Regions from separate parts of the Homo sapiens genome. Here region 1 is linked to region 2. Evidence: fine-mapped expression QTL. Tissue or cell type: whole blood. Region 2 holds a variant in brackets; the other region holds the start of a gene. All regions are shown on one strand. Distances are from middle to middle.

Evidence for each region. PIP is the estimated chance that this variant, and not a neighbour inherited with it, causes the effect.
Region 1: it holds the start of ZMYND11, and the variant in region 2 is fine-mapped to the expression of ZMYND11 in whole blood (TOPMed, PIP 0.98).

What each region holds. Positions count from the first base shown.
Region 1 is chr10:134,433-136,932 of GRCh38, reverse strand. ZMYND11 (zinc finger MYND-type containing 11) reads right to left here and starts at 1,478. Exons shown (of 15, transcript NM_001370100.5): 1 at 1,374-1,478. RefSeq lists silencers at 2,051-2,229, 677-2,236.
Region 2 is chr10:596,785-599,540 of GRCh38, reverse strand. All of the region lies in intron 1 of DIP2C (disco interacting protein 2 homolog C), which reads left to right. Among named protein-coding and RNA genes, the nearest start is that of DIP2C-AS2, 30 kb to the left of the region's middle. The variant C/T (reference allele first, on the strand shown) is at 1,102.

The DNA.
Region 1 (2,500 bases), 460 kb after region 2:
ATACCTAACGTATATGACATTGAATACTGCATACACACCGCATATGGCAGCACGGTACCGTGCACATACTGCACAAAATACCGGGAACCGCGTAAGGGCTGTATATGACACTGGGTGCTGCATACACAGTGTGAAAGGATACTATGTACACACCATATATGACCCCAAGTACTGTGTGCACACAGTATATGACACCTGGTACTATACACACCGCATATATGACACCAGGTACTACATACACACTGTATGTGACAACAGGTAAGGTAAATATATTCAATACTATCCAGATACTACATACACTCGTATATAACATGGAGTACCACACGCACAGCTCATATGGCAGCAGGGTACCAGGCACCTACTGCACACAATACCGGGGGCTGAGTGCACAGCCTAAGCGAGGAAGATACATGTACACACCGTGTATGATAGCCGGTACGACACCGGGTACTTCGAGCACACTGCATATGACACAGAGTACACACCATATATAATCCCCGGTACTGCGTACCCACCGCATAGGACACCGCACTGCACAACGAGCACTGGTACACACGAATAAAACAGGTACGGCGGTCACTCTGCAAAAGACACCGGGCACGGCGCACACATCGCCAGCTCCTCCTCCTCCCGGCTCGGGAGAAAAGCGCGAGGAGAGACTGCAAGTGAAAGTCCGGGTCCCGGCGCCCCCCCTCGTCCCAGCCGCGTCCTCAGCAGCTTCTCCCCGGAGCTCTGGGTGGGAGGAGGGCGGCGGACCCCACAGGACTGTCCCGGAGGTCCGCGAGGACCTGTTGAGGCGGCGGCCTCGCTGCCGGGGTCGCTCACAGCCCCGGGGGACCGACGAATCTCCGCCCCGGGCCTCGGGGCCAGCCCTGCCCGCCGCTCCCGGGCTAGCACACGACGTGCCGCGCCGACAAACGCTTCCTCTCCGCCCGCCACACGCCCGGAGCCGCGTTCCCCGCCGGCCCGGACTGCGCACGGGCCCAGGAGGCCTGACCGAAAGCGGGGCACAGGGCCCGGCGGGCGGTGCTCACGCGACTCCGCGGCTTCCCGGCCCGAGCAGGCCCCGCGCGGTCCTCCGGGGCCTCATCCCGGGGCCTCTTCCGCGGCCGCCCAAGGCGAGTGGGCGCGGGCCGGCAGCCTCCGCAGGCCCCGCCGCCGCCCTCGCAGGCCCCGCCGGCCCGGCCCGCCCCGCCATCCACAAAGCTCCCCGGCAGCTCGGAGCTCTTCGCGAGCGGGCGAGCGACCGTCAGCACCCACTGGTGCCGCCGCCGCCCCAGAGGCCGCGGCCAGGCAGGCTCCACCGCGCGGGCCGCGCCATCTCCACGGACGCCCCCGCCCGCCCCGCCGCCCCGCCGCCGAGCTTTCCCCACCATTATGCTCCGGCTCCTCCACCGCCGCCGCCGCCGCGCCCGGCCCTCCCCTCCGGTGCCGCCTCCTTCCCGCCGCCCGGCGCCTCTCGGGCCTGAGCCGGCGACGGGCGCGGGGGGCGGGGGGGACGCTCAGGCCGCCTCCTCCTCCTCCCTGCCGGCCTCCTCCCTCCTCCCCGGCTCCCCCCCGCCCGGACCCCGCCGCCGGCTCCGCGCGAAGGGCTCCGGGCTCGAGGGGCGCCATGTTTGTAATACTCCACCTCAGAGAACGCCGCGGTCGCGCCTGAGCGAGGGAGGCTAGGCGGCCGGGTCGCCGCGTGCGGGGTGAGGGCCGGGAGGGCACCGCCGCCCGCACTTACTCGCGTCTTCCCCTGGCGCCGCGGGCCTGCGGGGCCGGAGCGGGCGGCGGGAAGTTGGGCGCCGCCGCCCGGGAAAGTTGGGTCCCCGCGAAGCCGCGGCAGCCGCTCACATGGCGATGCGCGCGGGGCGGCCGCTCGGCCCCACCGGCCCCTCGGCCCGCCCGCCCTCGGAGTTTATTGTGTCGGGTCGAGGCGCCCCGCGGCCGGGCCGCGCACTGGGGGCTCTAGCGGCTGGCGCCGGACTTGCGCGCGGCCGGCCCGGCTCGCGGCCGCCTCCCGCCCGGGGCCGGAGCCGTGCACGCGGCTCCTACCTTCCCCACGTCCTGTCTTCGGCGCCTCTATCCGAAATTTGTTGGAGCATATTCCTCTGTCTCCACACATGCACTCCGTATCCACACACACGTGAAGGCTACGTACGTGCAGGCGCGCTGGAGCCGGGAGCGGGCGCCGAGGCCGGGGCGCGAGGGGGCATTGTCAGGCGCCGCCGCAGCTCAGCCCCGGGTGGACCCGGTGCCTGCCCCTGGCTCGCGGGGTCCGGAACAGCGAAGTCTGAGAAGTACGAGTGCTTCTCTTAACAACATTGTTTAGGTAGTCTGAACAGCCCTTTACTCCTGTCATCAAAAAGAGCGGTAGGGATACGCTAAGTTCCCCGTTTCATCTCTGCGCAAACAGGACCGCGAAAAGAACAGGACCACCCATCAGCAGCCCTGCAAGAACACTGCAGATTTGCGCGAGAAGTAGGTTATCTTCTATGGAGAGGAATTCTAGACC
Region 2 (2,756 bases):
GTGAACAGCTGGTCAGATGACCACTGCTGCTTCCTTCGACTGGGAAGTGGTGACATGATTATACTTCCATGGAACTTGGTTTGTTCTTGGTCTAGTAAGGGTTCAGTTGTATCTTGATGTTTAATCTGCAACTCTGAATTGGTCTTTTGATTGCAAAGAGATTGCTTGCTGGATTTGTTTCTAAATATTTCATGGATAATAGGAGAAACTCACTTACCTGTGTGTTCCTGTAACGTGTTTTTGCCGGGTATTTAAATGGGTGTCTTAGTAAGCCCTTAGCCCACTTTCTGTGTGTGGTGGATTCATTCTAACCATTCTGTTGAGACCAGAGGATGTGGGGTGCTGTCTCCCTAAACTAGGGGGAAATGGCATTATTCTGCCCTCCTCCCTGGGAACGCTGGGGTTTCTGGGTCTCTAACTTGGCTCCCACGCTGGGAGAGTGGCTGTGGCTTCTGGAGCCTGTTTTGTGAGGGACTGACTCCTTCACTTACTTTATTCCACACGGTCTTCGCCGCTTTATGATGCAAGGATGAGGGAGGTGGGCCCGGGGGCCGTGCCTGTGCCTCAAAGGCTCGATGCAGAAAGTCGTTGTTGGAAGGATGTTCCTTGAGGCAGTCTTTTCTACTTTTAACAGAAAAGTAACTATTCACATGGCTCTATTCTGCTAGTGATGTTTCAAAATAATTGATGCAGAGTTACAAAGATGTCGGAGACACCCATGACCCACTCCGGGCTGGGGCCAGGCCTTCTGCTCAGATGCCTTCAGACCACATTCAGATGCCAAAGATTCTTGCTTGGTTATTCTCAAACTTAAGAGAATCTAAAACACAAGCCACGGTGTGGATTTTCTCTTGAGCTCTCATGCCTTTAATTGCTTTGTATTTGGGGAATGAATGACTTCATCAAGGGGAAAGAATTTGAGGAAGCAGCCTCTGAAGCTAGGAGGGGGTGGGGAGGGGTGGCGTGAGGAGCAGAGGGAAGAGGAGCTGTGGGGGGAGGAGCCAGGCTGGGGCCTCTCCCCATGATGCTCCCCTACCCCTGTCGCGAGGCCTCGGACTGAGACTGACTTTCCCACAGGAAATGCATGTGATGATTGCATGT[C/T]GGTTTTGTGGGCTGGCCATATGGATTGAGGGAATGTCCATGTTGTGATTCTTCATTGATTTGAAGGTTGGAAAGGTTTGTGCTCAATGCAGGGGTCTCTTGGTGCGATGGGAAATGTGATCGCAGCTGCCCTCGGGGTGGGAAGAGAGGCCCTTGGTGGCCGGTGCCGGCTTTCACCTTCCTGGGTGAGCTGCCCTTGGGGTGGGGAGGGAGGCCCTCGTGGCCCTTGGTGGTGGCCGGTGCCGGCCTTGGCCTCCCCCAGTGAGTGCTGCTCCATCCCTGGTGTCTCCGACTCTTTGCCTGGCACTTTCCTCGTGGGAGGCCGTGATCCATCAGCCTTGTCCACGCGTGTCCTGCAGACTTGTGCTGACTCTGCAGGTCCAGCGGTGGTTAGAGGAGGCCCTCCTAAACGTTTAATGATGGCGCTGCTGAGTGCATGAAGCCACGTCAGCCCCAGAGTCCAGGTAGGGAACCGTGGGGTAGAGGGAAGAGTGGACAGATGGGTGCTTTCCTTGGCCCCTGGGGGCATGGCCAGGTCCACGTTCAGACCTCCTGGTTTCTCCCGTATTTCCATAAATAGCCAGGAAAGGACTCAGGACCCCTAGGACCTCATGGGTGTAAGCTGTGTCCTCGTGTGGCCCCAGCTGTGGCCAGTGACGTTATTCTCTTTAACCTCAAGCTTATTTTGTATAAAAACATGAAGGGACAGAAGTAGTTCAGGAGCCTCTGAAGACTTACGTAATTGTTAGTAGGCCTACTTTTATGATTTCTTACGTATTAAGAGCAAATCATGAAACAAACTCATTTCTGTTTGAAGGAATCTTTACTGTTCTCATTTTTGTGGCAAGTGACATTGATTCTTTGCATAGTGACAGCGTTAGTGCACTCCTGCCCAGCCCTGCTGCCCAGCGTGTCCTCGGCACACACCTCTGTCCATTGGTCTCCATTCACCAGGTCTCCATTCACCTTTCCACCTAGAATTGTAGGGGGGCACTGGGATATTGGGGCTAGAAGGAAACTCTGAAGACCACTTCTAGGGGCAGCTTAGTCAGGGCTCTCCAGAGAGACAGAGCCAGCCCGGTGTGTGTGTGTCCAGGGGGAGGCTTGCTGCAGGGGCTACGGAGGCCAAGAAGCCCCAGGACCCACTGCCTGCAACCTGGAGGCCTGGGAGGGTGTGGCTCAAAGGCTTGAGAAGCGGAGGGTGCAGATCCCACCCAGGTCTGAGGAGCTGAGACCCAGGAGCACCGGGGGCAGAAGACGGATGCCACTGGCCTGCAGCCAGACAGGTGGAGCGAGCCCAGCCTTCCCCGCCTTGCTGTTTTACTCGAGCCCTGGAGCCCTGGGTGGACAGGGTGGTGCCCCCTACACTGGCGAGGATGGGTCTCCACTTAGTCTCCACTCAGTCCAGAGGCAAACACACATCTCACACAGAAATAATGCAGAACCAGCCACCTGGGCACCCCGGGGCCCACTCAGGTCGATACACAAAACCAATGCCACGTGTGGCCCTCATGTCTGCATGTTCGCGTCACTATGCGCATTGCTCAGTCATCGCCTTGGTGAGCTTGAAAGCTCATTGTGTGGTTCTGGGTGTCTTTGTCCTGGGCAGTGGTGGTGATGACAGGCTCCCCACCACCCCAGCTCAGGCACAGGTG